Linked DNA regions of Homo sapiens: regions 1, 2 and 4 are each linked to region 3. The links come from fine-mapping of genetic effects on gene expression. A gene starts in region 3. Each other region holds a variant in brackets. All regions are shown on one strand. Distances are from middle to middle. Region 1 overlaps BAIAP2 (BAR/IMD domain containing adaptor protein 2). Region 2 overlaps LOC124904077 (translation initiation factor IF-2-like). Region 3 holds the start of BAIAP2-DT (BAIAP2 divergent transcript). Region 4 overlaps CHMP6 (charged multivesicular body protein 6).

Region 1 (2,500 bases), 39 kb after region 3:
ACTTGGGCCACAGCCTCACAGCCGTCTCCACGTCCCCACCCGAACCTGGCATTTCCTGAATTCCTGGCCCCTGTCCGAGAAGGAGGCTAACCCTCCTGGGAGAGCTCTGGCAGGTGCTGACCCAAGTCCGTGGGGTCTTCAACCTTTGCAGACACCTGCGCCCAGAGGCCACGCCTCCCACTCTGAGCACAGGCGGGCGGACGCTGTCTGGCAGGCTCTGCCTTTCTTTCATTTTTCCTGACCTCTTCGCCCAGCGTCCTCTGCTTGGAGGTGGGTGTATGAGAAGGGGCCATTGGTGTCAGAGTGGGGCTGTCTGCTGAGCAGGTGAACACACCCCCAGTCCTTGCTCTGGGGCCGGGCTGTCCCGTGGGCCTCACGGACCTCATTGTCTGTGGTCATGAGCCTGCATCTTACTGATTTAATCCCGGGTGCCGGGTACAAACATGCACGCTTCCCTGATGAGAAAATGGCATCTGGCCTGGAGCCCCTTCCCACAGCCCTGGGTATTGGGTGCCTGTCACCTCCAGGATGACCCCCAGCCAGCAGACAGGTAGCAGGTGGAGGGTACCTGCTCTGGGGCCCTGGTGGCCCCAGTGGGTTGAAGCTCTCTTCGTAGGTGGCGTGGGGCCTTCTGTCCCCATGACCCTCCAGCGGCCCCTCCCCATGCCAGGGCTCAGCACCCCTGCTCCTCAGAGATCGAAGCCTCCTTCTCGGACCTTCCCCACCACTGTGGTCCCAGCTTCCTGTGCAGTCTCTTGGTTACCCAGGAGTTCAGAACTTTTACCACCTGGGGTGCCTTTCAGATACTCGGACCTCTTGGTTTGTAGGAGTACCAGGCCGGGGTGGGGAGGTGGAGGCTGTGCTGCTCCCCTCACCCTGGGCTCAGCCAGGGCCGCCAGCCTTCTTCCTGGGAGCAGTCACCAAGCTGGTCTCGGGCCGTGCTTTGGTAGAAATGATCTTTTAACTGACTAAGC[A/G]GAGTGTTAACTGAAATCATCATGAAATGCTGTTTATGCTCCATTTGGGATTCGGAGTCAAGCATTTGGGGACCCTCGGGCAGGGTCTGAGCTGCTGTTTGCCCTCGCAGATGAGGACGACGATCTGCACAGATCTGCCTCCAACCCTGGGCTGAGAGCATCCGAGGCCCAGGCTCTTCCCTCCCCCAGTCTTTTTCACTGTCTCTGAGATTCACGCTCTCTCTCAGGTTCTTGTCACTCGCAGACTATAAGAACACGTTGTATTTTCTGGAGTAAAAAAAGGCACAAATCTTTAAAATGTCACTGTTGTGAAAGCCGAAGTGTGAGGGGCTCTTCTAGGTTAAAGGACTAAAGATGCCCAGCGCCCCAGAGGAAGGGTGAGAGTCCTCTGGGAGCTGGCAGGCGCCAGTTCCTTGTCGCTCACGGTTAAGCCCGTGTATCACTTATTTGTCTCAAGTGCTTATGGAGCAGTCTTCCAATAGGTGGAATGCTGATTTGTTTTCCTAAAATGAGAGAGACTAAAGCCACGTGCCAACGCAACACAGCGGGACCCTTGATGAGAACCTGGATCAGGGAGGAGCTTGTCAATGGCATCGTCGGGCCATTCAGGAGCATGGTGTGTGCTGTTGATGAGAGGAGGATGCGTCTGTGGTAACCTTCCTGTGTGTCACAATGGAGGCGTGATGAGGCAGAGAAGGTCCTTGCTCTTAGGACACAGCTGCAGTATTGGGGGCAGGGGCAGCATCACATTGTCTGATGTCTGCAGTTGAGTCTCAAGGGGCTGAAAAAAGTGCCTGTGTGTCTGTGTGCATGCATGGATACGTGTGAGTGCCGGTGTGTGTGCATGCACGGATACGTGTGAGTGTGCGTGCACTGGTACATGTGTCACTGTGTGTGCGTGCACGGATACGTGAGTGCTGGTGTGCGTGCATGGATGCGTGTGAGTACGTGTGTGTATGCACAAATACATGTGAGTGCCAGTGTGTGTGCATGCACGGATACATGTGAATGCCTGTGTCTGTGCGTGCATGGATGCGTACGAGTTGCCTGTGTGTGTGCACGTGCACAGATGTGTGAGTGCCTGTTCGTGTGCGTGCATGGATGTGTGAGTGCCTGTGTGTGCGTGCACGGATGCGTGAGTGCCTGTGTGCGTGCACGGATGCGTTGAGTGCCTCTGTGTCTGCGTGCACGGATGCGTATGAGTGCCTGTGTGTGTGCATGCACGGATGCGTGTCTGTGCGTCTGTGTGCGTGCACAGATGCGTGTGAGTGCCTGTGTGTGTGCACGGATGCATAAGTGCCTGTGTGTCTGTGTGCATGTACGGATGCGTGTGAGTGCATGTGGGTGTACCTATACATCACAGAAAGAGTGGTGAAGCGATTGTGGCAAAGCACACCGCCAGGGAACCTCGGCGAAGTGAATGGGTGTTTGCTCTGCTATCCCTGCAACTTCTCTCCAGGTTGGAAAGGTTGGGCTGGGAAGAGAATAATGTAGTTCTGTTTTCTAAACCACAGGGAAGAATGGGC
Region 2 (2,752 bases), 28 kb before region 3:
CTCAGGAGTTTGAGGCTGCAGAGTTGATCATGCCACTGGACTCCATCCTGGGCGACAGAGCAAGACTCTGTCTTTTAAAAAAAAAAACGGGGCTGGGCGCGGTGGCTCACGCCCGTAATCCCAACACTTTGGGAGGCCGAGGCAGGCGAATCACGAGGTCAGGATTTCGAGGCCAGCCTGGCCAACATGGTGAAACCCCGTCTCTACTAAAAATACAAAAATTAGCTGGGCATGGTGGCGGGCGCCTGTAATCCCAGCTACTAGGGAGGCTGAGCCAAGAGAATGGCTTGAATCCGGGAGGCGGAGGCAGAGGTTGCAGTGAGCCGAGATCGTGCCACTGCACTCCAGACTGCAGCCCTGGTGACAGTGCGAGACTCTGTCTCCAAAAAAAAAAAAAAAACAAACAAAAAACAATAAATAACAAGGTCGGCTGAGGTGGCTCACGTCTGTAATCCTAGCACTTTGGGAGGCCGAGGCGGGTGGATTACCTGAGATCAGGAGTTTGAGACCAGCCTGACCAGCATGGAGAAACCCCGTTTCTACTAAAAATACAAAATTAGCCAGGCGTGGTGGCGCATGCCTGTAGTCCCAGCTACTCGGGAGGCTGAGGCAGGAGAATCGCTTGAACCTGGGAGGCAGAGGTTGCAGTGAGCCGAGATCATGCCATTGCACTTGCAGCCTGGGTGACAGAGCAAGACTCTGTCTCAAAAAAAAAAAAAAAAAAAGACTCAAAAAAAAACAAAAATCAGCCAGGCGTGGTGGTGTACACCTGTAGTCCCAGCTACTCTGGAGGCTGAGGCAGGAGAATCGCTTGAACCCATGAGGCAGAGGTTGCAGTGAGCCGAGATTGCGCCACTGCACTCCAGCCTGGCAACAGAGCAAGACTCCGTCTCATATAAAGAAATAAAACAAAAATAAACAAATTTTAAAAACAAACACATTCCTATACAGGTTTCTGTGTGGACAGCGTCTGCTCTTGGGTCTGCACCTGGGAGTGGAATTGCTGGGTTGTGTGGTAACTGGATGTTCACCCATAGGATGAACGACCACACTCTTTTGCACAGTGGCCGATGGTTCTGGTCTCTCTACAGCCTCACCAACTCTTATATTCTTTTTGATTACAGCCACTCTAGCAGGCATGAGGTGGTACGTCA[T/C]TGTGGCTTTGACCTGCATTTCTCTGGTGTCTAATGGTGTTGAGCATTTTTTCGTGGGTGTTACTGACCATTTGTATATCTTAGAGAAATGTCTATTCAGATAATTTGCCTATTTTTAATTGGGTTCGTTGTCTTTTTATTGAGTTGTAATACTTTATTCGGGATACTAGACCCTTATTAGACACATGATTTGCAAATATTTTCACCCATTCTTTGGGATGTCTTGTTAACCTTTTTGATGGTGTCCCTTGAAGCACAAAAGTTTTTAATTTTGATGAAATCTAATTTATTTTTGTTGTTGTTCCTTGTGCTTTTGGTGTCATAGCTAAGGAACCCCTGCTTAATCCAAGATCATGAAGATTTGTGTCTATGATTTCTTAACAGTTTTATAGTTTATTTATATTTATATAAATATGTTTTTGAGACAGGGTCTCACTCTGTTGGCGAGGCTGGTCTTGAACTCCTGACCTCAGGTGATCTGCCTGGCTCAGCCTCCCAAAGTGCTGGGATTGCAGCCGTGAGCCACCGCGCCCGGCTTGACTTCTTCCTTTTATATGTGGGTATTTTTCTGTCCCAGCGTCATTTGTTAAAAAGACAGTCCTTTCTCCGTGTAATTGTTTTGGCACCGTGTGGAAACCCGCTGCCTGTAGCCAGGAGCTTCTTTCCAGCCCTCAGTTCTGTCCCATTGCTCTGTGTGTCTATTCTTACGTCCTCATGGCAGCCTTGTAGTAAGCTTTGAAATTGGGAAGTGTGAGTTCTCCAACTTTGTTCTTCTTTTTCAAGATTGTTTTGGCTATTCTGGGACCCTCAAATTTCCATGTGAATTTTTAGGATAAGCTTTTCAGTTTCTGCGGAGGAGCCAAGTGAGATGTTGATAGGAGTTGCGTAGAATCTGTGGATGTGTTTGGAGAGTGCCGCCGTCTCCGCTACATTAAGTCCAGATCCGTGGATTGAGGGTGCCTTTCCATTTATTTTGGTCTTCTTTACTTTCTTTCAACCAAGTTTTGTAGTTTTCAGAGTATAAATTTTATACTTGTTTTGTTCAGCCTATTACTGTTTTATTTTTGGTGCTATTGTAAATGAAATCTTCTTAATTTCAATTTCAGATTATTCACTTAAATATACAGAAATACAGCTGATTTTGTATATTGAGCTTGTCTCCTGCAATGTTGCTGAACTTGTTTATTAGGGTTTTTTTAAGTGAAATCCTTAGGACTTTTTATATACAAGATGAGGTCACTTGTAAAGAGAGATAGTTTACCTCTTAATTTCCAACCTGGATGCCTTTAATTTCATTTCCTTCTCTAAGTGCCTGGTTAAAGCTTCAGTACAATGTTGATTAGAAGTGGGTATCTTAGGCTGGGCGCGGTGGCTAACACCTGTAATCCCAGCACTTTGGGAGGCCGAGGCGGGAGGATCACGAGGTCAGGAGATCGAGACCATCCTGGCTAACAAGGTGAAACCCCGTCTCTACTAAAAATACAAAAATTAGCCGGGCGTGGTGGCGGGCACCTGTAGTCCCAGCTACTCGGGAGGCTGAGGCAGAAGAATGGCGTGAACCCGGGAGGCATGGTGGTGCATGCCTATAGTCCTAGCTA
Region 3 (2,713 bases):
TAACGCTGGGAGCTTCTAGAAGGTGGAGCGGGATCCAGGACCGTGGGAGCTTTTCCGGAGAAGCCTACCTCTCCTGTGTTGCAGCTGATGGGAGCAGCAGGGCCTGGAGAAGAACTGTCCCCAGGCTGACTCCCCTCTTGGAGTGAGGAGGCCTCCCGTGTTTGCCTGCCAGCCTCCATCTGTCATCTTGGTTCCAGCCATTCAACTTTCCTCCAGGCGAGCAGAGCTGCTCTACCCCCACCTGCTCCGTGTTGGCCCCAGACCCAACTCAGGCCAGTGGACGTCTGTCCTAGGGCTGCGTGTGAGATCGGTGGGTGCAGGGAACACAGCAGGAAGCTGGCCTAGAAGAAGGGGGTCAGGGTCAGTGGAGATGCTCCTACCTTCAGGTAAATGCCCTCATTTGTTAGGGCCAGTTTGAGCGAGCTTTCTGTCATTTACCACCAAAAGAATCCTAGAAAATAAATACACAGGGATCTACCCCCAAACACTGGAGACAATAAAGAAAAAGGAAGCAGCCAGGGCCAGTAGCTGGAAGGAAATTCAGCCGGAGGAGAGGAGGCGCGGGGCTGTGGTGGGAGGGAGGCAATGCTTCCTGAATCTTACTTCCCTGGTCTTTCCATCGGCCTGAGCCCGTGCCAGTCTGGGGATCTGCCGGCCAGCCAGCACAACTGCGTCTCCCCCAGGGGCCTGACTCGTTGAAGGAATGAATGAATGAATGATTTTGCAGGGATGGGAGGCTGGGAGACTGAGAGGTTTCATTAAACGGAAACGCTCAGATCTGGTGTTTCACAACGTAAAACAAATAATTCCTCTATGTTAGCCTAATTTATGTAAATATTTCTCCACGGGAATTGTACCGGGAGACCTGTGTGCCAACTCGGCCAGCTTCCCCGGCAGAATCTCCCCTTGGGAGGACCCTTAAGCAGGACCCTTCCTAAAAATTGGAGGCAGCTCTGACTCCTCCATTCCTCCTACAAGGTTCCCCCACCCCCTAGGGCTTTCCACCGCATGAGAGTCCTCCGGGCCCCTCGTTTCCTACTGCCCTCGACCCTTCCTTCCCGAGACCTCTCTCTCTCAGTAAACTGCCTCCAACGAGAATCTTCTGACGGCAGGAGGGTCCTCCCCGTCCCTAAGGGTCGCCCTGTCCCCAGGCCTTCCAGCAGGACACTCCCCTGTCCCCTCTCCAGATCCTCCTTCCCAGGGCCCTCCTCCAAGATCCTCTTCCCCAACCCTCCTCTCCCAGGGTCCTCCCCTCTCCAGAATCCCGGCCCCAAGCCCCCAAGCGCTGTCTGCCTGTCTGGGGTCCTCCCCAGAGTTCACCTTCTGCAGGATCCTCCCTCCAAGTCCTCTCCTCACGATGCTCCCCCGAAATCCTCCTTCTCCAAGTCGTCCCCCACTCCAGGGCCGAGCTCTCTCCAGGGTCCTCCTGCAGCACCCCCTCCCCCAGGGTTCTCCTCTCTGCCCCGAGGGGCCGGCCGGGGGGTCGCCGCCCGCCCGGCGGGCTTACCTGCGAAGCGGCGGGGTCGGGGCCTCTCCCACCTGTAAGCCCGGCCCGCGGCGTCCTGCGTCCGAGCCGCTCCCCGCCCCGCAGCGCCAGGCCGCGACCCGGCGGGCCGCCCGCCCCGAAGTGCCACTTCGCGAAGTGCCGCCTCCACGCGCGCTGCCGCCGGCGCCCCCCGCTCTCCTCCCCGCACCTTCTGCTCCTTCTTCCTGCGCCACCCCGCCCCCGCCTCCCCGCCCCCAGCCCGGCTGTTGCCCGGGCCCCCTCAGGCTGCTCCCAGGGCCCCAGCCCGCGCCGCGCCTCCCCTCTCCTCCCCCAGGATCGACGCCGCCGCAGACCAATCGCTGCCTGGAGTCGGCCACTAGGCCCCACCTCCGATCCCGCCCCCCTCCCCCTTCTCCGGAACCCACCAATGGAAAGGGCGGTGCGGGGGCGGGGCCTGGCGGTTGCCTAGCAGCGGCAGCGCCGGGCGGGGGCGGGTGGTCGGGGGCGGTGATGCGGGCGCAACGGGGGCGGGACGCAGGGGCGGGGACTGCCGCGGGGCGGGGCCTGAGGCGGCTATAAAGGTGGCCGCCGCCGGACGCCGGGCTCTGTGGTTCGGGTCCGCTTTCGTCTCCGTCCTGCTGCCGTTACCGCCGCTGCTGCCGCCGCTTGCGTCCCCCGCTCCGGTCTGTGGTGCAGCCGGGACCCAGGACCATGTCTCTGTCTCGCTCAGAGGAGATGCACCGGCTCACGGAAAATGTCTATAAGGTGAGCGCCCCCCGGCGCCGAGCTGAGCCCGCTCCGTGTGCGCCTGGGTCGCGCGCCGCCCGCGCGCCCGAGCCCGACCAGGGCGGCCCCGGGGCCGCGCGCCGGGCCAGGAGGCTGGGACTTTGGGGGTCTTCCCGGCGCGGCCACCCGGGACCCGGGCTGCTGGGGTGGTGAGCCCGGCGCCGGCCGCTCACAGGTGGCCACCCCCGCCCGGGCCCCCCCATCCCATGCGCGCCGCGGCCCGGTCAGTCCCCAGCCCCAGGCCCGGGGAGCACTCCCCGCTCCGACGGCCCTGCTCGGCCCCCGCGCGCTCGCCTTGGCGTCGGCGGGAACGGAGCCGCGCGCCGGGCCCCGGAAGCCCTCGGACCGGTCGGGGTCGTAGCACACCCGGGCAGGGCCGGGGCGGCGGGGGCGGCGGGCCCAGGGGTTGCGGCGGCCAGGACGGCATGGGGGCTGTCTGAA
Region 4 (2,500 bases), 41 kb before region 3:
GGGCCAGGGGCGGGCGCCGCCATGGGTAACCTGTTCGGCCGCAAGAAGCAGAGCCGCGTCACGGAGCAGGACAAGGCCATCCTGGTGAGGGCCCGGGCCCGGGGTCAGGGCTGGGGCCGGGACAGGCGACGGGGCCGGGGCGGGCGGCGGGGCCGGAAGAGCCCCGCGCCCTCGGCCCCCCGCGTTCGGATGGGGAAACTGAGGCGCAGCGCGCAGCCGGGCCCCTCGGTCTCTCCGCCCTGCGTCCCTCCTCGCCCGCGGGGCCTCGGGCCGGGGTCTCCTGCGCGGCGCCGTGGCTGCCGTCTTCCCCGGGGCCCGCGCGTCCGCCTCTGCGAGCCCCGCCGGGGTGGGCGCGGCTGGTGACTGCGGGATTCGACGCCGGCGTTCGGGGCTCGGCCACAGCCTGGCGGCCCGTCCGTGGGGTCCGCGCGGCGCTGGGCTTTCCCTGGCTCTGGGCCCGCGGGAGCAGGTCCCGGCTCTCCCGGAGTCGCTGCCCCCGCCCCCGTCCCGCGGCTCATTTGCCTCCTGGTGCCCTGGGCCGGAGCCCCGGCGGTGCTGCCGGCTTCGCGAGGCAGCGCGGGGCATCCCCTCTCCCTCACCCCATCCAGGCCAGGACTGGAAGGAAGTCTGCCCTGGTCCGAGGAGCGGCCGACAGGTGCGCCGAACGCCTGCCGGGGTCCTGCCGGGGTCCTGCCGGGCTTCCGCAGCGCCTGGGTACGGGACCACCGTGTTTGGCGCGTTTGTTTGCGGCGACTCCAGACTGACCCCCCGGGGCACAGCCGGGCCGGTGGTGGTGCCTTTTCCCATGTGAAAGTTAGCTTCTGTAGGAGGAGGAATCGCCTGGCATGTCAGGGACAGGGCGGGTTAAGAATAGTCCATTTTTGTAACGAGATAAACGTGTCACGAAAGAGACCCCGAAATGAAAGCAGGGCTAGCTTTTTCGGATGCTTTCTTTTCTAAATTTTGTGCAACAGAAATAGGTTAATTTTATA[C/T]TAAAAGAGAAGCGAATGTAAATGAAAGAGGGAATCTTACGTTGGCATCTGAGTCCATAAGCTGTGAAAAGAAACAACGGGCACATTTGTCCCTAGAGAAGATGGGCACAGCGCTGGGCACCGTCCCGAGCTGCCTGCAAGACAGCTGGACCCAGCCTCCATCGTCCACCTTCCACCTACCCTGCCAGCCCCAAGGCACTCCCTCCCCTCTCTTTAAGGACTCAGCTCCGGTTTCTCTTCAAGCACAGCTTTCCACTTGCCAAGGGTCACTGTGGGCTCTCGGCTGTGCAGACCCGTGTTGCGGGCTGCCGTAGGTCTCCCTGGGATTTTGGGTGCTTGGGAACAGCATCCTTAGCACACACTAGCACAAATGATTGCTTTTTTTTTTCTGTTTTTCTAGGATAACAGGTGTTCCCCACGTGGCCTGTGACCCTCCACTGAGACCTTGTTTTACAGGGGGGCAGCCTGGCCACACCTGCCTGCCTTTGGCCCCTGGGTCTCCCCAGCAGTGGGGCTGGGCAGGGGGCACCTTTCACTGTAGCAACGAGAGGACCCACAGGCCTTGGCACGGCGAGGGGGAGACTCCGTGGGTGGAGGGAACCGGGAATGAGCCCTCTCAGGTAGAGGGAGCACTGGCTTCCCATGCGGAGTCTTAAAGAGGCACACAGGCCCTGACTGAGCTAATTCTCCTCAGCCTCCTGCCTTAAGGCCATAATCCCTGTGCCTGCACGGGCTCAGCATTGTCTGAAGTGATGACGTTTGGAAAACTTAAGGACCTGATAGAGCAGGACTGGCTGAAGTTCCTCAGTGGCCGAGTGCCCTCTCTGGGACGGCACACAGATGAGAGGCGGTCAGCGGGGCCGAGTGGGTGTCCCTGCAGCCGGATGGTTGGCAAAGGGGCAGGGAAGCCACAGGCATCTCATGCGGCTGAAGCGCAAGGAGAGAAGCCGGGGGGATGTCTGAGCCCTGTCCTGGCCGTGTGGCTGGTGGCACTTGGGTACTCGCCACCTGCATGTTCTTGAGTCGGAACTTTTTTTTTTTGAGATGGAGTCTCACTCTGTCACCCAGGCTGGAACACAGTGGCATACTCTCGGCTCACTGCAAGCTCTGCCTCCCGGGTTCACGCTGTTCTCCTGCCTCAGCCTCCCAGGTAGCTGGGACTACAGGCACCGCCACCACACCCGGCTAATATTTTTATGTATTTTTAGTAGAGACGGGGTTTCACCATGTTAGCCAGGATGGTCTCGATCTCCTGACCTCGTGCTCCGCCCGCCTCGGCCTCCCAAAGTGCTGGGATTACAGGCGTGAGCCACTGCGCCCAGCCGAGTCCAAACCTTTGAGGTCCTGGCAGCTGCTCCCTGACCTGAGCCTAGAGTGCTTGTACCGCTGGCAGGCAGCCTCGAGGGTGGACCCACAGCAATGCCACGGTGGTCTTCCCCATCCCTGTGATGGGCTGTGGAGTCCGGGTGACCCTCTGGTGGGGCCGCCTCTTGTGTGGCAGGATGTGG

Evidence for each region.
Region 1: its variant is fine-mapped to the expression of BAIAP2-DT in whole blood (TOPMed, PIP 0.94).
Region 2: its variant is fine-mapped to the expression of BAIAP2-DT in whole blood (INTERVAL, PIP above 0.99).
Region 4: its variant is fine-mapped to the expression of BAIAP2-DT in whole blood (TOPMed, PIP above 0.99).

What each region holds. Positions count from the first base shown.
Region 1 is chr17:81,072,504-81,075,003 of GRCh38, forward strand. The region is part of intron 3 of BAIAP2 (BAR/IMD domain containing adaptor protein 2); the gene reads left to right. Among named protein-coding and RNA genes, the nearest start is that of BAIAP2, 39 kb to the left of the region's middle. The variant A/G (reference allele first, on the strand shown) is at 975.
Region 2 is chr17:81,005,139-81,007,890 of GRCh38, forward strand. It overlaps LOC124904077 (translation initiation factor IF-2-like), which reads left to right. Exons shown (of 1, transcript XM_047437254.1): 1 at 1-2,752. Among named protein-coding and RNA genes, the nearest start is that of CHMP6, 15 kb to the left of the region's middle. The variant T/C (reference allele first, on the strand shown) is at 1,155.
Region 3 is chr17:81,033,058-81,035,770 of GRCh38, forward strand. BAIAP2-DT (BAIAP2 divergent transcript) reads right to left here and starts at 1,662. Exons shown (of 2, transcript NR_026857.1): 1 at 1,508-1,662; 2 at 1-341. It overlaps BAIAP2 (BAR/IMD domain containing adaptor protein 2), which reads left to right and starts at 2,094. Exons shown (of 14, transcript NM_001144888.2): 1 at 2,094-2,251. The coding sequence starts at 2,198. RefSeq lists a silencer at 1,730-2,039 and an enhancer at 1,911-2,713.
Region 4 is chr17:80,991,898-80,994,397 of GRCh38, forward strand. CHMP6 (charged multivesicular body protein 6) reads left to right here. Exons shown (of 8, transcript NM_024591.5): 1 at 1-84. The coding sequence starts at 22. Among named protein-coding and RNA genes, the nearest start is that of CHMP6, 1.3 kb to the left of the region's middle. RefSeq lists silencers at 1-166, 297-446, 457-646. The variant C/T (reference allele first, on the strand shown) is at 993.